Homo sapiens: one gene and its partners. The protein of the gene in region 1 purifies or fractionates together with the protein of each later gene. This does not show direct contact. Each region holds a gene or a part of one and is shown in the gene's direction. Other genes may lie near its edges.

Region 1 (7,025 bases):
GGTGCTGCTGGGAGGTGGGAGGCTGCTGGGAGGGCACCGGATGCCGGGGCCTTGCAACCTGGCAGAGGCTGTGCTGCTCAGGGAAGCAAGGTGGCCCTGGGGTGAGGCGGGGGGCTCAGAGGAAGGGGAGCCCTCAGGAGGAAGTGTTGGGGGCAACTGCCAGAGAGCCCGGCCACTGCCCAGTGCCCATCCGGAAGCTCAGCAGGGAGTGGGCTTGGAAGTGGGCAGGGGCATGGTGGCGCCGGCAGCATCCTATTTTGCAGATGAAGGGCGCCCTAATGGAGATCATCCAGCTCGCCAGCCTCGACTCGGACCCCTGGGTGCTCATGGTCGCCGACATCTTGAAGTCCTTTCCGGACACAGGCTCGCTTAACCTGGAGCTGGAGGAGCAGAATCCCAACGTTCAGGATATTTTGGGAGAACTTAGAGAAAAGGGTATGTTGTGCTGCTTTAATTCATGTTGGGTGGAGGGAAATGGATCTTTCTTGAAAAATTTTTTTCTGAAATGAATTTGATTTTTAGACCTTTACGTTTTTCCGTGTGTCCTGGTCCCTAGAATATTAACTGTATATGCACCATCCTCCCCCGTAAGCTGCTGCCTGGCTTTTGCCATCTTTGAAAACAAACTCCAAACAGCCCACAGGCCCCATCCTCACTGCTGCGGTGTCAGTGGGAGGCTGTGTCACGCCACTCGCCGTCTCTCTCTGGTCGGCTCCGTGAGGGTAGGGGCTCTGCCCATTCAGGTGGTATCTGTAGATCCTAGGTTCTAGGGCCCAGAGCATTCCCTGGCCCAGAGTACATGCTCAGAAATGCATGTTGAAAATATCAACGATTTAGTTGTTTAAATGTGAACTGAAAGTCACTTAGAAAATATTCACAAGGCTGGGCTCCGTGGCTCACTCCTGTAACCCCAGCACTTTGGGAGGCTGAGATGGCCAGATTGCTTGAGCCCAGGAGTTCGAGACCAGCCTGGGAAACATAGCAAGAACCCATTTGTACAAAAAATAAAAATTAGGTGGGCGTGATGGCACATGCCTGTCCTCCCAGGTACTTGGGAGGCTGAGTCAGGAGGATCACTTGAGCCTGGGAGGCCAAGGCTGCAGTGAGCCATGATCGCGCCACTGCACTCCAGCCTGGGTAACAGGGTGAGAATGTATCTCTTAAAAGAAACAACTATTTGTAGATGGATTTGAAGAACATGTCTTGATGGGATGCTTGATGCTTGTGCTTTTCTGAGTTTCTCTCCTGCTTTGGACAATTGGAACTGGCTCCTCAGAGCCCAAACGTTGTGCCCCAGCTCCTTCAAGGGCAGCACCCAGAGAGACAGGGTTGTGGGATGGAGACATCGAGGCTGCACACTCCTGCAGGGGCCCTGCTGGCCACCCCCCTGCAAGTGGCACCTCTCCCCACCTGTGAGGTCACACACACCACACAGATGCCTCTGGAGCAGTGGTCTGGACAGGTCCACCCCACCCCACCCGTTCGTGTCTCAGGAGTGTCCCGCGGGCAGGAAGGCTGAGGCCGGTGAACTCTCATGTGCCTGCCTGTGCTTTTTCTCCAGGTGGGGCACGTAGCCAGTTCAGGTGGGAGGTCGCCTGTCCCTCGTGGGGCAGTTTCTGGGATCTGAACCGTGGGTGAGCACACAGGCTGAGGAAATGGATGTGGGCAGTTTGGATGAGGGCCAGGGTTCCAGGAGAGACCACCAGCCTGGCTACCCTCGGGGACGGGAAGAGAGAAGCCACAGATCGGGGGTCCTTCTTACGTGGGGGTGGGATCTGTTAACATTTCATGTTCTACAAGTGTCTGGAGCCCTCCAGGAATCACTGTATCTATGTCCGCCTGTGGTTCTTGGTGTCCGCGGTGCCAGAGGTTTCCAGTTTACAGCCCTCTCAAGGCATGCCCGCCTCTCAGGCATTCCTGTTCTGCAAATGCTCCTGGGTGTTCTGCTGGAGCCGTGGGGAGTCAGTCTCGAGGACCTCAGGGGACAGCCGAAGCTCCCATGACCTAACCCTAACTGAGGAGGGTGTGGGGCTGGGCAGCCGCCAGCTCCTCTCAGCCGGGAGGTCTGCGGCCTGGGCGCCCCTAACTTCATGTGGTTCTTACCGGCAGTGGGTGAGTGTGAAGCGTCTGCCATGCTGCCACTGGAGTGCCAGTACTTGAACAAAAACGCCCTGACGACCCTCGCGGGACCCCTCACTCCCCCGGTGAAGCATTTTCAGTTAAAGCGGAAACCCAAGAGCGCCACGCTGCGGGCGGAGCTGCTGCAGAAGTGTGAGTGGCCGCGGCCGCCATCGGGCATTGTCTTTGTAGTTTCCAGTCATAGGTTTCTTAGGTTCTAAGGTACCAAGACTGCCCCTTCAAGGTGGCGTTCTGGGCCAGGCATGGTGGCTCACACCTGTTGGGAGGCTGGGGCAGGTGGGTCGTTTGAGCCCAGGAGTTTGAGACCAGCCAAGAAACCCCATCTCTACCAAAAGTACCAAAACATTAGCCGGGCATGGTGGTGCGTGCCTGTGCTCCCAGCTACTCGGAAGGCTGAGGTAGGAGGATCACCTGAGCCCACGAGGTTGAGGCTGCAGTGAGCTGTGATCACACCACTACACTCCAGCCTGGGAGAGAGTGAGACCCTGTCTCAAGAAAAAGAAGATAAAGTTCTGCATAAAGTTTTTTGTTAGAAGTTTATCACTATATTAAACTTTATGTTCTGAAAACATGCTTTAAAAACTTCAGAATTTAGGCTGGGCATGGTGGCTCACACCTGTAAACCCAGCACTTTGGGAGGCTGAGGCCAGCAGATCACCTGAGGTCAGGAGATCGAGACCAGCCTGGCCCACATGGTGAAACCCCGTCTCTACTAAAAATACAAAAATTAGCTGGCTGTGGTGGTGCATGCCTGTAATCCCAGTTGCTTGGGAGGCTGAGGCAAGAGAATCACTTGAACCTGGGAGGCGGAGGTTGCAGTGAGCCAAGATTGCCCCACTGCACTCCAGCCTGGGCAACAAGAGCGAAACAACATCTCAAAAAAAAAAAAAAAACCCACCAACTTCAGAATTTTAGGTGAAGGCATCTCTAATCTCTGTGACCAAATGAACTCTGTGCCAGCTGAGTCACGCTGTTGGGCACGGTGGGTGCCAGGGTGAATGGCTGGAGGGGCACGTTCCTTACTCTCACGTTGCTGCCTTCTGGAGTGGCGGGTGATCTCAATTCCACTTGAAAGATATTTAATCATTTCAGTTAACGTTTTCCCAAAGCACGACAAAGATTTCAATAACATCGTTTTATTTTGAATGGTTATGGAATTAATATTTATAATGTACATCAATACCCCGTTTCCAGAGAATCCAAATAAAAGGCTGACAGCAGCTGTGCATGGATCTTGGCTGGAACGGGCAGCAGCCAGGGCCCAGCGCTGTCCGGGAGGCTCCGTGCAGCCCCGGGCCCACTGGGTAGCCCAGGAAGGACTCTGCTGGCCCCTTGGGCCCCACCCCCTTTGGAGGCCAGCAGTGGCCACAGGGTCTGCTTTGGGCACTCGGTGTCCCCTGACCCTTCAGCCACACTGAACCAAGTCAGGAATATCTCTTCGTTTGTTTCTTCCTCATATTTTTGTATCTAGACCGTGCCTGCTGACCCTCAGCGAGGACGGTGCTACCACTGGGCCAGGGGGAGGCCCGGGTCGATGGAGAGGGCTCATGAGGTCCCTCAGCTCCTCCTCGGCTGCCTCCCCCCTGCCATGGGGTCCTGGGAGGTGCAGCCACAGCCACCCAGCTCCCGAAACTTGCTCACCTGAGTGAGTTTCTGACTCGTTGTAAAGTGCGAGCTGGTGTCAGGCCCGGCTCGGAACAGCTGCTCATTTAGAGAGAATGCAGCGTTCACGGCTCAGGCCGTCGGATGAATCCACTTGACAGAGATGTTTTTACAAGGGCCAAGGGCTCTCGCTCTGAGGATCCCTGACATATGTGACCTCTTCCTTCCAGCCACGGAGACCGCCCAGCAGTTGAAGCGGAGCGCCGGGGTGCCCTTCCACGCCAAGGGCCGGGGGCTGCTGCGGAAGATGGACACCACCAGTAAGGCCCCCACCCTGGTGCCGTGAGCCTTGCTTTTGGGGCAGAGCTAAGGGCTTCACCTGGAGACCCGCTCCCTGTTGGGGAGGTGGTGCCTGTGAATGGTCTTCAGGCAGCAGTGTTGGGAGCCCGTGGGAAAGCGAAGGCACTGGGGCAATTTCACCGGCTTCTCCCCTTGGGGAGCTCCCTGGGAGGATGTGTGGGCACGGAGACAGGAGGGCCGGGATCTGAGGACAGTGCTGGGCACGGAGACAGGAAGGCCGGGATCTGAGGACACCGCTGGGCATGGAGACAGGAAGGCCGGGATCTGAGGACAGTGCTGGCCCCTGCTCCTCTGCTGTTGGCACCGGTGGCTCTCGGCCTTCCCAGCTCGGGCTTTCGGCCCCAAGTGCTGCTCTTGGGTTCCGAGTGTCCCTGGGCGGCTCCGCGGGGAGGACGTGACCGTGCTCAGCTGCCCGTGGGGCTGTGCCCCCCGCACCCCTCCATCTGCCCTTCCTGATTTGTGCTCTCAGGGCTGGGCGTGAGCTTAAGCAGGATGCACCCTGATCACAGGAAGACGGCGTGCCCCTGGGAACCATGGCAGGGCATACTCACCCCAGAGGGTGCTGGATAGTGACCTGGGGGCCAGAGGGCAGGACGGGTGTCGTCCTGTGCTGAGACAGCTGGGTAAACTTGCAGATGGGTGGGGCTGAAAGGGCAGCCTTACAGGCGCTCTCCATGCAGCTCCCAGACCAGCCTGGCTTAGTTTATTTGGGCTCCCATAATCCCACAGTGTTCACATGGGACCTAGTAGAAGGCATCTTGGGTCTGCTGACTATTGTCGCTGTGTGGGGGGCCGTCCCTGGGTCATGTTCCTGCCCACCGCAGCCGAGGTTCCACCTTGCTCTCCTCTACCCCGCCTGGAGCAGACCCTTGTCTTTCCACCCCCACCAGGCATCCCAGGGCCAGGGCTGCACCTGCTGGCCCAGGGAGGGTGGGCCAGCCGTTGAGCAGTGTGTCCAGCCTGGCCCGGTGTGCTGATGGCACCATCCCCCGGGCGTCCTCTCTCCGGGCCTGGCACCATGAGAGCCACGCACGCCTTGGAGGGTGCGTGTGGGCGCTGGTGGGTAACAGCGTAGGTAGGCCTCAGGAGTGTCCTCAGGGGACGGGGAGAAGGCTTGGGAGGGCGGCCCTCAAGCCCAGGCGCCTGGCTTCATGCCCCTGCCGGTGGAGGCACAGGAAGGAGGCAGAGCTCAGCCCCCGCCACACTGGTGAGAGACTCCACCTGGTGAGATCCTGTGGCTGGGCTGGGGTGCCGCTGTCTTTGTTTGGTGTCTTGGCAAAGTGTGAGGTCGTGGCTCCAGGCGTTCCCCTGCTCCTTGAGGTCCGGGATCCTGGGGGTCCTGCCCGCTGCCCGCCAGGGGTTTGGCCCTTCCCCTCTGCGGCGCTAGCCTAGAAGAGGGTGGGACGTTCTGAGCTCGGGGTGGGGGACGTTTGCCGGTCACTGCTGCTGGCGCCCTGACTGTTGCCGTCCTCCAGCCCCACTCAAAGGCATCCCGAAGCAGGCGCCCTTCAGAAGCCCCACGGCGCCCAGCGTCTTCAGCCCCACAGGGAACCGGACCCCCATCCCGCCTTCCAGGACGCTGCTGCGGAAGGAACGAGGTGTGAAGGTAGGCCCGTCCCCCAGCTCCTGTGGCACCCCGGGGCCCGTTGCGCCCTGGTGCCGTCACTAAGGCAGGGCTGTGCTTGTCTTGGCAGCTGCTGGACATCTCTGAGCTGGATATGGTTGGCGCTGGCCGAGAGGCGAAGCGGAGAAGGAAGACTCTCGGTGGGGGTTGGGGCCTGCGTGTCGGCGGCAATGGGGGTCCCTGCGGGCCCTGCCCAGTTGGGGTGGGTTGTGCCCACGCTCGGCGGGCAGGGCTGTGCCCCGTGAGGCTGCTCTCCGTGGGTGGGTGCCTGCTTTTCTCCTCGCTCCTTGGTGGCCTCCCCTGGGAAGCTGTTTGATTCCCTGCCGCTGCCCTGAGCTGACACTGCAGACGCGCCCGGGCACTGGCGAGGACTCCTGTTTTGTCCACAGATGCGGAGGTGGTGGAGAAGCCGGCCAAGGAGGAAACGGTGGTGGAGAACGCCACCCCGGACTACGCAGCCGGCCTGGTGTCCACGCAGGTAGGGCTCGGGGCTGCACCCCATGTCTGGCACCACTGCGGGTGCCCCTTTTGTTCCGATTGTGGCCACTAGTGTGCTCTGTCGGAGAATATATATATGTATGTACATATGTGTGCAGTCTGTATTTATGTATATATACGTATATGTACATGAGAGGCAGTGTGGGCCGTGCCCTGACATGGGCATCTGACTCAGGCTTGGAGCGGGAACCTGCCCCACGCTTGCTGGAGGGGCTGCCAGGGGAGTCCTCCTCAACCCTGTGCCTCAGTGTCCCGTCAGGCAGGGCTGGTGGGACCTAAGCCTTGCACGTGGCCGTGAATGGGTGCAGGACAGGCCTGTGGGGGTGCTGGGTGGTCAGAGGCCTCAGTGTCCCGGAGACCAGGCCCTGCCTGCGGGTGGGAGGCAGCCACGGGGCGCGGCAGGTGCACAGAGGCTGCAGTGGGTCGTCTGAGGCCAGGGCCTGGAGGAGGCCACACTGTGGGGTCACTTCAGGATAATAAGCTCCTTTCTTCCCGCCGCTGCGTGTTCTGTGTTTCTTAACATGAGCATCTTCCTTTATATCAACGCTTCGTGGTAAGAAAAAGCATCGCTCCTTCTGTGCTCAAGATGGGCTGTTTGGGCTCCTCAACCCCTCCCCTCTCCTACACAGGAGCGGCTCAGTCCCCAACTCTGCTGGGGCGCCAGGGGCCAGGGGTCCCGTTGTCTAGCCCAGGGAGCTCGGGAGAGTGGCCCCCGCCTTCCTGCTCTAGCTCGGGGGGCCACAGCCTGTGGCAGTGGAGCTCCGGGTCGGGCCATGTGTTAGCACATGCCGGAAGCATGGCC
Region 2 (7,025 bases), on another chromosome or scaffold:
ACACAATGGTATCTATGTATCTAAGCATAGAAAAGATACAATAAGGATACAGTATTGTAATCTTATGAGACCACTATTATAAGTGCAGTCCGGAAATGTTGTTAGGTGCATGCCTGTATATTAATGCAGGGTTAATATGAAGGAAATTTGGGGAAAAGATGGGAAATGCTTTGAACTATTTTGGATTTTGATAATCAGTACCAACATAGTTCTTTGACTTACATTTGACTTCACTCATTTTTGAAGTACATGTACTGTGACTGTAACAGATAATTCAGATTTCATTAAGATTTGAATTCAGATATTATTTTGTGATTATAGTATGACCCAAAGCCAGTGTGATTTATAACCAATCGTTTTTGTTAAATTGTGTGTACATCTTGAGTATCAAATATATAATATGATCCTTTTTTTTTTCTTTAGTTACCTAGATTCAAGATGAATAGCGATCAAGTTACACTGGTTGGTCAAGTGTTTGAGTCATATGTTTCGGAATACCATAAGAATGATATTCTTCTAATCTTGAAGGAAAGGGATGAAGATGCTCATTACCCAGTTGTGGTTAATGCCATGACTCTGTTTGAGACCAACATGGAAATCGGGGAATATTTCAACATGTTCCCCAGTGAAGTGCTTACAATTTTTGATAGTGCACTGCGAAGGTCAGCCTTGACAATTCTCCAGTCCCTTTCTCAGCCTGAGGCTGTTTCCATGAAACAGAATCTTCATGCCAGGATATCAGGTAAATCACTTAAGGATTTTACTGCCATGCTATCTTCTAGAAAGATTTTGAGAAAATATACTAGATTTAGAACACTAAGAAATAATTGATATTTATACTTAAAATATATATCTGTTGTGTAGTTGATGGTCACTTCTTTTAGAGCAGAATAATAATTGTGTTCTGTGGGCATGAAGTATGAGTCTTGCCCACTGAGGGGAGGGAGAATGTGTGGAGACAGCAGTATACTTGTGTGTCTATATATTTCCACGTCTGTGTTTAAAAATGTAATTCAAAACAGCTTTATGAGCTTTTGTGGTTACTAACAATAAAGGAACTGGTAATACAAAGAATTAGAAAAGTGATAGATCTTGTCCAGGGATCTTCAGAACTATTTTAGGACATTAGTTATTTTTAAAGATCAGTATTAGCATTGTGCAGTCTACCTACCAGTTACTCGATACATTTTTGTTGAATGCATGACAGATAAAGCATCTTAATTGTTAAGAAACTGCAGTGGAGCAATCAGCAGCTTGGGGTGGCAAAGCTGTATCCTTGAATTCCTGCCTCTAGGAGTCCTTGCCCCTCACTTTCTGTTTTAAAAGTGATTTTTTAGTAGGATGGATAGAGTTGACTTAAGAATTTTAGGGAAAAGTGACACTATAGTGTAACAATTTTTATTTAGTTCATTGCATGGAAGTAATTTCTTGGAAGGCATAGTGTGGCGAAAGAGAAGAATTGGATTTAAAGGCTACACGCCTAACCTGGGAGACTTAGTAAGTTATTTTATCTCACTGAGCCTCAGTTTCTTCACTTGCAAACCACTTCTAGAGTCCCTGTCAACCCCCTAATTAAAACAAAATTTAACTATGCCATTATTGTATAAATTAATAAAGGCTGGTACAAATTAATTCTATTTACATGAAAGAAAGATTTGGTAAAATTAAAAGCAGGTCCAGAATATTGAGGGCAGTCTGTGATTAAGTTGGAGAACATACATACCCTTTTGTTTAAAAATAAATATTTAGCAGCCGGGCGCGGTGGCTCACGCCTGTAATCCCAGCACTTTGGGAGGCCAAGGCGGGCAGATCGCAAGGTCAGGAAATCGAGACCATCCTGGCTAACACGGTGAAACCCCGTCTCTACAAAAAATACAAAAAAAATTAGCCGGGCATGGTGGCGGGCGCCTGTAGTCCCAGCTACTCAGAAGGCTGAGGCAGGAGAATGGTGTGAACCCAGGAGGCGGAGCTTGCAGTGAGCCGAGATCGCGCCATTGCACTCCAGCCTGGGCAACAGAGCGAGACTCCGTCTCAAAAAATAAAATAAAATAAAATAAATAAATAAATAAATAAATATTTACCTTATAGTACATTTGAGAAGAGTGGTGATTTATAATCAATAAGAATGCTTCCTGAATTCCAAAAAGGTTTGGAGTCACTATAGTAGAACTTCTTGGAGGCAAGTTAAGATTCCCAAAAAGACCAAATACTTAATTTAAATGAAAAATATTGTCTGCAGTTACACTTGCTAGGATAAATTATGAAGAGTATTAATCATTATGCATCAGGGTACTAGATAATCTCTTGATGGGATCAAGAAAAAGGGTCCCCCCCATCAGCCTTTTTTAAAAATTAGAGATGGAGTCTCACTCTGTTACCCGGGCTGGTATTAAACTCCCAAGCTCAAGTGATCCTCCTCCTCTGGCCTCCCAAAGTGTTGGGATTATAGATGTGAGCCATCGTGTCTGGCCAATGTTTCCTATTAATAAGTTTGCAAAAGGATTATTAAGGGGGACTTTAGTTAATGTTGTCGAAATGCTATTTAGGAAATAGTTTTAGGCTGCCATTATTTTCAGATACCTTTCCATACTGAGTTTAAGTAATACAATCCTGTCTGCCTAAGTGACCCTATCAGTTTCAGGTGAATTTAGCTTATTTTTTCAATTCTCTGAAAAAGTAAGTTACAAATTATGTTACTACTGAACAAAACATCAGTAGGCATTTGCTAGGATCTTGGGAAACCAAAAAGAATATAGTTTTTCCCTCCTTTAAAAAACTCAGGGCTGTATGGCAGACAGCTATATAGTCAAATATTTACCAGATGGTGTATGCATGCCTACAGATACATGTGTATGTATATATTAAGCATTATTGTATGGGAGCTTAATGGAAACTTTTATGTGTGATGCATGCCTCACTCAAGGTATGTTGTTTTTGTTTTTGAGACAGAGTCTTGCTCTGTTGTCCAGGCTGGAGTCCAGTGATGCAATCTTGTCTCACTGCAACCTCTGCCTCCTGGGTTCAAGCAATCCTCCTGCCTCAGCCTCCCAAGTAGCTGGGATTACAGGCATGTGCCACCATGCCCAGCTAATTTTTGTATTTTTGGTAGAGACAGAGTTTTGCCATGTTGCTCAGGCTGGTCTTGAACTCCTGGCCTCAGGTGATCTGCCCACCTTGGCCTCCCAAAGTGCTGGGATTGCAGGCATGAGCCATGGTGCCCGGCCAGAATTAATGTTTAAATAGCGCTTGCTGTATGCCGAGTAATATTTTCAGAAACTTTACATGTATGAATTCTTTTTTTTTTTTTGAGACAGGGTCTCACTCTGTTGCCCAGGCTGGAATGCAGTTGCACAACAATCATAGCTCACTGCAGTCTCTAACTTCTGGGCTCAAGCGATCCTCCCACCTCAGCCTCCTGGGTAGCTGGGACTACAGGCATGTGCCACCACACTCAGCTATTTAAATTTTTTTTTTTTTTTGTAGAGGTGGGGTCTCTGTGTTGCTCAGGCTGGTCTTGAACTCCTAGCCTCAAGTGATCCTTCTGCTTCAGCCTCCCAAAGTACTGGGATTACAGGTATAAGCTATGAATTCTTCTAGTTTTCTTATTACCCTGTGTGATAGGTTCTGTTGTTATTTTATAGATGAGAAATCTGAGAGGTTACAACTTAGCCAAAGTCACACAGCTAGTAAGTGACAGAGTTGTGACTCAAACCTAAGCATTCTAGCTTGAGTCTGTATTCTTTGTTTTTTTGAGATGGAGTCTCACTCTGTTTCCCAAGCCGGAGTGCACAGGTGCAATCTCGGTTCACTGCAACCTCTGCCTCCCAGGTTCAAGCGATTCTCCTGCCTCAGCCTCCCGAGTAGCTGGGATTACAGGCGTGTGCCACCACACCCGGCTAATTTTTGTATTTTTAGTAGAGACAGGGTTTCACGATGTTGGCCAGCCTGGTTTCGAACTCTTGACCTCAGGTGATCCGCCCACCTCAGCCTCCCCAGTTCTGGGATTACAAGCATGAGCCACCATGCCTGGCCTGAGTCTGTATTCTTAACCACTGCATTGCTTCTTAGTGTGGGCATTTTTGAGGAGCAGAGTGAAGAGGAGAGCACTGAGACAAAGGGAGCACTGTATGTGAAAAAGTGCGCAGAAGTCTTGATAGAACAGGAAGCCAGTCACAAAAGGCCCTATAGTCCAGTCCAGATTTGGTACCTTATTCTTAGATCTGTGGCAAGCCATGGAAGGGTAAAAGCAAAGGAGATTTGGCCTTCATTATGTATTGCTCAGGTTACTCTAGAAGCAATGGGGCATATAGTGTTTTATTCTTCCATTCTAAGATGCTATTTACAGTAAGAAACACTATCAAATTAAAGATAGCTTTCTAGGAATAAAACTACAATTAAATTACACAGCTTTGTTGTTAAACCAGAATTTGTTTTTAAGCCAAAAATAACAAGTGTCTGTCTATACAGTTTATATTATGTAAGACTTCATTGATACATCACTTCATCACATTGAAAATCTAAAGACTTCTCTTTCTTTTCTTGCTTTTTTTTTTTTGAGACAAGAGTTTTGCTCTTGTTGCCCAGTCTGGAGTACAGTGGCACGATCTCGGCTCACTGCAACCTCCGCCTCCCAGGTTCAAGCGATTCTCTTGCCTCACCCTCCCGAGTAGCTGGGATTACAGGCATGCACCACCACACCTGGCTAATTATTTGTATTTTTAGTAGAGATGGGGTTTCTCCATGTTGGTCAGGCTGGTCTCAAACTCCCAACCTCAGGTGATCCACCTGCCTCGGCCTCCCAAAGTGCTGGGATTACAGGCATGAGCCACCACGTCCAGCCAAAAATCCAAAGACTTTTCTAAATTATGCTAGGCAGTCTGTAATCTCATTGGGCATTCTTCAATCATGCATAACGTCAGAGTAACACCACATTTTCTGTAATGTGGTTCTCCTGATCTTAGTTTTTCTTGTTTTAATATACTGACTATATAATTTAAACTGAACAATCAATTTGCATCTGAAGCAGAACTGAGATGAGGGGACTAGAAATGGGAGGCAAAAGTGATATTTCTTTAGGGCCAAGGAAGAGAGAATGAATATTTCAGAAACCCAAAGAATTTTTGTTAAAGCAAATTTTCTTTACCTATTTTTTTTCTATTCTCCTTTTTACCTTCCTTCGTAGAAGTAATTGTTGGTACATTCTGTTTATATTTCGAGAAGCAAATTGGGTTAATTATCATATTTCCCACTCGAGTATCCTTCTGTATATGTACAATAGAGAGTACTTAGTGACTGTTTGCAAACATAAAAATAAAATTATTTAAAAAAATTATTTTAATAACCATGTGACCCAGCAGTTCTACTCCTTAGCTGTATGCCCAAGATAATCGAAAACTGTTCAAACAAGAATTTGCATACAAATGTTTGTAGTTGCATTATTCATAATAGCCAAAAAGTGGAAACAACCTAAATGTCCATCAACTAATAAATGAATAAACAAAATACGGTATATCTAAACAGTGGAATATTATTTAGTCATAAAAAGAGTGAAGTACTGTATATGTTACAACAGGAATGAATCTTGAAAACATTATTCTAAGTAAATAAAGCCAGATTCAAAAGACCACATATTGTATGATTTTGTTCAGATATCCCTGACTTACATTTTTTGACTTTATGAGTATGCGAAAGTGATTCAGTAGAAATTATACTTTGAGCACCCATAAATTATTCTGTTTGTCACTTTTAGTGTAGTATTCAATAAATAACATGAAATAGTCAACACTTAATTATAAAATAGGCCTTGTGTTAGATTATTTTGCCCAACTGTAGGCTAATGTTAGTATTCTGAGTATGTTCAAGGTAGGCTAGGTAGGCTAAGCTATGATGTTCAGTGGGTTAGGTGTACTAAATGCACTTTCAACTTACAACATTTTCAATTTACGATGGGTTTATTGAGATGTAGCCCCATTGTAAGTCACGGAGCATCTACGTGTGAAATTTCCAGAATAGGTAAATTCATGAAGACCAAAAGTAGATCAATGGTTGCCAGCAGCTAGGGTTATGGAAGAATGGGGAGTGACTGCTACTGGGTACAGGGTTTCTTTTTGAAATTATGAAAATATTCTGGAATTAGTGGTGATGGTTATACAATATTGTGAATATACTAATTACCACTGAATTGTCTACTTTATAGGGTAAATTTTATGGCATGTGAATTATATCTTGCTTTTTTTTAAGTATTCATATTTTTTTTAAAGTATTCATGTAGGGAGCAAAATAAATGTAACTGAGAATCTACAAGCAGTGTTAAGATGTATTACAATATATATTCCAGTTAAGGCCAGGTAAACAAGAGAGAGAGATTTCTGGGCTGTTTCTTGTTTTTTAACATTCTAGGATATGAACGAAAAGTGTGTCTCCCTTAATGGCAAAATGTGATGCAATCTGAATTAATGTAAATAATGAATATGTTCATTAGAAAATGGGCAAGTCAGTCTTAGAAGCATAGAAAAAAGAGTCATAGGGGCAAATGTTGGCAATGGCCACCTTGTTTGTCTATACACTCTACAGTGTATGGAGAGAGAATTTCAGCCAACCAACAGAGAAAATTCAAGTCTATCTGTAGACTTGTAACCTGTAACAGTAGGTTAACATAGCCTGGCACCTTAAACATTCAGTTACTCTAATTTGCTTTTTCCCCTCATACTTCCTAAACTACCTTCTGATTGGCTTTCAGAATAGATGTATCAACTAGGAGAAAATATGCTGACCATAGAAACTTAAGGTATAATGATTCCTATTATGGCATTTCTCATGGGCTGGACAATCTGATGGATGGGCCTTCAGTAGGCGTACCTACCTGGTTTTTGAACCGCTAAATACTGAGGACAAGACAGGAGACATGAACCGGCATAACAGTTGCTATTTCAATAAACCTGTTAGGAATTAGCCTTTATAGCCAGCATCTTTCCACCCCAATGGTGCATTGTAGCCAAACATGAGAAAAAGGGAATTTCCACATA
Region 3 (7,025 bases), on another chromosome or scaffold:
CTCCTCTTCAGTTACCAGGTGAGGCAAGAGGGCACTGTGAGGCCTGTCCCCACTGCCAGGGACAGGATTGGATGGCCTTTTCAGACAGCCAAATGATGACATGGTCCTTGAAGGACAGGGTTCTGTGGCTAGACAGGTAGGGATGGCAAATAATGAGCTACTTTTGAGGGGAGCTGCTGGTTCACCCATCATGGCTCCAGTAACCTGTTCATTTATTCATTCAACAAATGTTCTGGCTGGGTGTGGTGGCTCACGCCTGTGATCCCAGCACTTTGGGAGGCTGAGGTGGGTGGATCACGAGGTCAGGAGATTGAGACCATCCTGGCTAACATGGTGAAACCCCGTCTCTACTAAAAATACAAAAAATTAGCGTGGTGGTGGGTGCCTGTAGTCCCTGCTACTTGGGAGGCTGAGGCAGGAGAATGGCGTGAACGCAGGAGACAGAGCTTGCAGTGAGCAGAGATCGCACCATTGCACTCCAGCCTGGGAGACAGAGCGAGACTGCATCTCAAAAAACAAAAAACAAAAAACAAATGTTCCTTGACTTGGCATGTTGGGGTCACAGTCTCCCTTACAGAGATCTCAGTCTCAAGGCAGAGGCAGTTTTATAGATACACAGTTACTGCAGGGGATGTTGAGGACGGTGAGAGCACATCCAAGCCCTGAGGTGAGCAGAGAGTGGTGGGGGCATCCTCCACTGGGAGGGAGGAGCCAGGTTTGGAAAGAGGCATCTCTGGGACCTGTCAGAGGGGAACTGATGACAAGGTTCCTAGAAATCAGCCTGTGGTCCTGTCATAGTTTGGGTTGTTAAAATGTGCTTCATCGTGGGCTAGTCGAGATTTGTGTTAAGCAAATATTTCTGAAGTCTTCTGTGCTTGGCCTTGGGCTGGGTGATGTTGGGGGACCCAGCAGTGCCTGAGATGGACTGGGCCCTACTATTGGGAGGCTCACAGTGGTCAGGGCTGTGATGGAGGGAGCCCAGAGAATTGTGAGCATAGAGGATGTGCCTGACTCTGCCTGGGGGAGAGGGGGCGGGGATGGCTGCCTGGAGGAGGAAGGTTAGTTTGGTTTTTTTTTTTTGTCTTGGTGTCTTGCTCTGTCACCCAGGCTGGAGTGCAGTGGCACGATCTCAGCTCACTGCAGCCTCCACCTCACGGTCAAGCAGTTCTCCTCTCTCAGCTTCCTGAGTAGCTGGGATTACAGCGGTGCGCCACCACACCTGGCTGATTTTTATATTTTTGGTAGAGATGGGGTTTCACCATGTTGGCCAGGGTGGTCTCAGAACTCCTGACCTCAAGTGATCGCCTACCTCGGCCTCCCAAAGTGCTGGGATTACAGGCATGAGCCACCACGCTAAGCCTTTTTTTTTTTTTTTTGAGACAGGGTCTCACTTTGTCACCCATGCTGGGGTGCAGTGGTGTGATCTCGACTCACTGCAGCCTCAGCCTCCTGAGGATCAAGCAATCCTCCTGCTTCAGCCTCCCAATGAACTGGGACAACAAGATTTTGCCACCATGCCTGGTTAAGTTTTGTATTTTTGGTAGAGACAGGGCTTTGTCAGATTGTCCAGGCTGGTGTCAAACTCCTGGGCTCAAGTGATCCTTCTACCTTGGCCTCCCAAAGTGTTGGGATTACAGGTGTGAGCCCCCATGCCTAGCTAAGGAGGGAATATTTTCGTTGAAGTGTGAATGGGAGGCACAGTTTTTTTTTTTTGGAGATGAAGTCTCACTCTGTCGCCCAGGCTGGAGTGTAGTGGCACAATCGCGGCTCACTGCAACCTCTTCCTTCTGGGTTTAAGTGATTCTCCTGCCTCAGCCTCCTGAATAGCTGGGATTACAGGCGCATGCCACTGCGCCCAGGCCCAGAGGGGACTTTTTATACAGAAAACCAGCATGGATGATGGCCAGCACTGAGAGAGTATGGTCCAAGTAGTTGAGTGCAGCTGAGGCCTAGTGTTGGGGAGGCAGTCCTGAATGGTGGGGAACGGGGAGAGGCAGCAGGCAGAGCATGTGCTTCTAGTTCAGGCTGGCTGAAGCTGAGCAGGGGAACAAATGGTCAGGTTCATGTTTTAGATTACAGTTTTCTAAGACTGTACCATATATTCTAGGTTGGGGATGATGAAAGGTGCTTTTAGGTGGAATAAGGACAAGACCTTAAGCTACATTGAATCATTTAGTGAGAATATTTCCTTTTCAGTTGTGTGTCTTATCTTGATTGGGTCATGAGAAAGTTTCATCTTAGTGCTACTGTGTCTTGAACGCCTCTGGGTGGGAGAACAGGCCTTAGGCTTAGAGCCTGCAGCAGGCAGCAGTATCTTGCTGGGTCTTAATAACATTGTTTTGCTTTTATCTTTATAGTTACCTTGTGTTTATGACAAACCTTCAAAAAGTTTTAAATTTTGAAACATTGCATAATATAAAAATGTTTTTATTTAAGAAGGTGAGTAGATTTGAAGAAAATACACATTGAGTATTATCTAAAATGCTTGGGACAAGAAGTGTTTCAGATTTTGGATTTTTTTTTTTTTGATTTTGTAATATTTGCTGTGGAGCGTTCCCTAATCTGAAAATCCAGAATGCTCCAGTGAACATTTACTTTGAGCATGACCTTTTTTTTTTTTTTTTTTTGAGACAGAGTCTTGCTGTGTCGCCTAGGCTGGAGTGCAGTGGTGCGATCTTGGCTCACTGCAACCTGTGCCTCCCAGGTTCAAACAATCCTCCTGCCTCAGCCTCCCAAGTAGTTGGGACTACAGGCGTGCCACCATGCCTGGCTAGGTTTTTTTTTTTTTGTATTTTTAGTAGAGATGGGGTTTCACTATGTTGGCCAGGCTGGTCTTGAACTCCTGACCTCAGGTGATCCGCGCGAGCCACCGCGCCCAGCCTGAGCATGACCTTTGAGCATTATGTCAGTGCTGAAAAAGTTTCAGATTTTGAAGCCTTTCAGATTTCAGTTTTTTGTTTGTTTGTTTTTTTGACAGTGTCTTGGTCCATTGGCCAGGCTGGAGTGCAGTGGTACAATCTCGGCTGAGTGCAACCTTCACCTCCCAGTTTCAAGCGATTCTCCTACCTCAGCCTCCTGAGTAGCTGGGAGTACAGGTGCCCACCACCGTGCTGGGCTAGCTTTTGTATTTTTAGTAAAGACGGGGTTTCACCACATTGGCTAGGCGGGTCTTGTACTCCTGATGTCAGGTGATCCACCCGCTTTGGCCTCCTAAAGTGTTGGGATTACAGGCATGAGCCACTGCACCTGACCAGATTTCAGATTTTTGGATTAGGGATGTTCAACCTGTATTAGGTAAATGGATTGTAGTAATGACATGGAAGAAGTCGTGAAGTTCATGAGTTAAAGACTGAAGTTTGGTATGCATCCATTAATGTTGTTTCTGGTATGGAAAGAGGGATTAGAGGCCAGGAGAGTAGGGAGGAGGCTGGGGTAAGGATCCAGGTGTTAGAGGGCAGTGTCCTGGCCTAGGCTCAGATATATGGGGCTGGGGGAAAAGGATGGGTTGGAGAAATGATGTTTACAGGCAGAAAGGATGAGGATTTGGTGCCTGTCGGTAATTGGAGGAGGCCATCACAGGTCTAGGGGAAGACACTGAGGTCAGTTTGGGACACAGTGAGTATGAAAGGGCTCAGAGGCCATCTAGGGGAGGCATCCAGGATGCTGCTGGTGCATGGAGGTCTTGAGTTCTGGAAAAAAGTGGGACTCTATAGACAGATGAGGACACGTGTCATCTCTAGAGACAGGAACTGAGGTCATGGAAAGTAAAATGGACAGGGAGAGAGGGCATGGAGGGAGAACAAAGTGGCCCTGGACTGAGCCCTGGTAATTGATGTCAGATTTGAAGGGGTTAACAGTAAGAGGAGCTTGAAGAGGAGCTGGTGGAGTTTTGAGAAAAACCAGGAGAGCATGATACGGCAGAAGCCAAGAGAGGAGCATTTCTCCAGGGAGGGCATGGTTGGGGTGCCAGATGCTGCTGGGATGGTAGGGAATACAGAATGGCCACAGAATTAGCAACAGGGGTGGCCAGTGATCTTCGTGAGCAGTGTGGACTAGAAACAGAGATGGGAGTCACTGTCACAGAGATGTCCACCACCGCCAAGGGAGAGGACGAGATGGCCTTGGGGAGTTGTAGAATGGGAAGAGATGGGCCAGGTGCTGTGGCTCACACCTGTAATCCCAGCATTTTCGGAGGCAGAGGCGGATGGATCACCTGAGGTCAAGAGTTCGAGACCAGCCTGGCCAACATGGTGAAGCCACGTGTCTACTAAAAAAATACAAAAATTAGCCAGGTGTGGTGGCGCACACCTGTAATCTCAGCTACTCAGGAGGCTGAGGCAAGAGAATTGCTTGAACCCAGGAGGTGGAGGTTGCAGTGAGCCAAGATTCTGCCATGGCACTCTAGCCTGGGAGACAGAGTGGGACTCTGTCTCAAAAAAAAAAAAAAAAAGAGAGAGAAAGAAATGAGGCCCAAGGACCAAGCTTCATCAAGCTATTATAGTTAAAGACTCGGTGGAAAGTGAGCAAGAGGTCTAGTGCAGGGAGAAGCCCGGGTCAACTCCCAGGGTTGCTTGGGTGGCTGGGGAGATGGCAGTGCTGTCGCTGAGATAGGATGGTAACCAGAGAGGCCAGGCTAGAGTGAAAGGGATATATGCAGAGCAAAGTGGGCTATGATTGGCCAGGCCAATCTGAGGTCAGATTTAGGGTGAGGAACTTGGTTTTTGGATTTTTGGGGTAGCAGAATTCTGGTGCTACAACCCTGCCTGACCCCTGTAGGTAGACGAAGAGCGGCGGAGTGCAGCGGGCAGTGAGAAAGAAGAAGAGCCTGAGGACGAAGAGGAGGAGGAAGAGGAGGAGGAATACGATGAGGAAGAGGAGGAAGAAGATGATGACCGACCCCCCAAGAAACCCCGCCATGGAGGCTTCATTCTGGACGAGGCTGGTATGTCATAGTGCTTGGCCAGTGCCGAGCAGAGGCTGAGCTTCTACTTTTAGTTCCATTTCTTTTTCTTTTTTTGAGGCGGAGTCTCGCTCTGTCGCCCAGGCTGGAGTGCAGTAGCATGAACTTGGCTCACTGCAAGTTCATGCCATTCTCCTGCCTCAGCCTCCTGAATAGCTGGGACTACAGGCGCCCGCCACCACGCCCGGCTAATTTTTTCTATTTTTTAGTGGAGACGGGGTTTCACCTTGTTAGCCAGGGTGGTCTCAATCTCCTGACCTCGTGATCTGCCCGCCTTGGCCTCCCAAAATGCTGGGATTACAGGCGTGAAGGACCAAAGTTCTTAACTTTTCTCGTGCTACGGCCCCTTCTGTAGTCTGGTGAAACCCTGTTCCCTTCTCAGAATCATCTTCTGAAATGCATAAAACAAAATACATAGGATTCCAAAGAGGACAATTTATTGAAGTACAGTTATCAGAATATTTAAAAAGAACATTTTGGTGCATATGTTTCTTTGTTAACATATTTAGGTAATAAGACTTTGTAGGTAGTCTGAGAATCTAATTTTCAAGTAGCAGTGAGTGTAAATGCTGCCTTGAGATACCTATAGCTGTAATGTGCTGTGAAAGAGCCAGTGACACAGCTAACATTGTGTGGTTTGTTGCCATTGTATGTAATTGATGTAAATGCTAAATTTCAATTCCAGGTTACTGAAAATAGGAGCTGTAGTTTTTTCATCGAACACAGACCACCCCAGATGAAAAATCTCTGTTCTACGTGTTAAATCCCTGTTAGTCAAATTGCTAGGTAAAGGTGGTGCATTTTGTTGTTGTCGTTGTTTTTTTTTTTTTTTTTGAGACGGAGTCTCGCTCAGGCTGGAGTGCAGTGGTGCGATGGCTCACTGCAACCTCTCCCTCCTGGGTTCAACTGTTTCTCCTGCCTCAGCCTCCTGAGTAGCTGGGACTACGGGCACGTGCCACCATGCCTGGCTAATTTTTTATATTTTTAGTAGAGACAGGGTTTCACTGTGTTAGGATGGTCTCGAACTCCTGACCTTGTGATCCGCCCGCCCTGGCCTCCCAAAGTGCTGAGATTACGGGCGTGAGCCACCATGCCTGGCCGCACTTTTTTTAAAAAAAGATTTTTTATATTTACGGCCAAATATCAGTTCCTAAAAAGATAAGACTAGTTCATACTTCCATGATGATAATGAATGTGCATGTTTTCCCTTACCTATGGGAAGAGGGGTTACTTAGAACACATCCTGCCTCTGTTTTCCTGGGACTGTTTTACCTGAGAAGAAAAGTAGTTTATTGTCAAAGGGACAGGAGGTGCTCTGGATGTTCTTGGAGAGCAAGAGAATGGATACCATGCTGGGTAAAAGCTGTGGGTTCCCAGGGACACCCATATGTTGGTGGTGGAAGTGTTGGTGGGCACTGCCTGTGTGGAAGGCTGTGTGGCAGTGCCTGTTAGCATTTAACATGCAGGAACCCTTTGACCAAGCAGTTCCTCTTTAGAATTTACTTTATGGTTAAACTTGCATGAGTGCATGAAGACCTGAGAACAAAGATGCTTGTTGTAGTCCTGTTCGCAGTTGCAAAAGTTTGGTGACCTAAATGTTTATTGATGATTAGGGCCTGGTTAAACAAATTATGGGCCATATAGTATATGAGGCATGTGCTGCTGTGGGAGAGCTCTGAGTTAGTAGTAGTTTTGAGAAAAAGAAAGGTACAGAACGGTGTGTTAAAAAAATTACGTGGGGGCTGGGCGTGGTGGCTCATGCTTGTAATCCCAGCACTTTAGGAGGCTGAGGCGGGTGGATCATCTGAGGTTAGGAGTTCGAGACCAGCCTGGCCAAGATGGCGAAACCCTGTCTCTACTAAAAATACAAAAATTAGCTGGGCGTGGTGGCGGGCGCCTGTAATCCCAGCTACTTGGGAGGCTGAGGCAGGAGAATTGCTTGAACCCGGGAGGTGGAGGTTGCAGTGAGCCGAGATTGCTGCACTCTAGCTTGGGTGACAGAGCAAGACTCGGTCTAAACAAAAAAAATTACATGGGGGGAACATAGTGGTGGCGGGGTGGATTA

The links. Proteins that work in one complex are often made in the same cells at the same time.
Region 2: the proteins of NELFA (region 1) and MCM9 purify together in Homo sapiens (affinity purification with mass spectrometry; 2 studies listed by BioGRID and IntAct, with this or other methods). This does not show direct contact.
Region 3: the proteins of NELFA (region 1) and SUPT5H purify together in Homo sapiens (affinity purification with mass spectrometry; 3 studies listed by BioGRID and IntAct, with this or other methods). This does not show direct contact.

What each region holds. Positions count from the first base shown.
Region 1 is NC_000004.12:1,984,954-1,991,978, reverse strand, and holds part of NELFA (negative elongation factor A), read left to right. Parts: intron 1-263; coding exon 264-435; intron 436-2,109; coding exon 2,110-2,271; intron 2,272-3,971; coding exon 3,972-4,061; intron 4,062-5,501; exon of another isoform or gene 5,502-5,576; coding exon 5,577-5,707; intron 5,708-5,795; coding exon 5,796-5,865; intron 5,866-6,114; coding exon 6,115-6,203; intron 6,204-7,025. UniProt on the Homo sapiens protein: Essential component of the NELF complex, a complex that negatively regulates the elongation of transcription by RNA polymerase II.
Region 2 is NC_000006.12:118,925,137-118,932,161, reverse strand, and holds part of MCM9 (DNA helicase MCM9), read left to right. Parts: intron 1-423; 5' UTR 424-438; coding exon 439-742; intron 743-3,483; coding exon of another isoform or gene 3,484-3,574; intron 3,575-7,025. UniProt on the Homo sapiens protein: Component of the MCM8-MCM9 complex, a complex involved in the repair of double-stranded DNA breaks (DBSs) and DNA interstrand cross-links (ICLs) by homologous recombination (HR).
Region 3 is NC_000019.10:39,448,580-39,455,604, forward strand, and holds part of SUPT5H (transcription elongation factor SPT5), read left to right. Parts: intron 1-4,776; coding exon 4,777-4,942; intron 4,943-7,025. UniProt on the Homo sapiens protein: Component of the DRB sensitivity-inducing factor complex (DSIF complex), which regulates mRNA processing and transcription elongation by RNA polymerase II.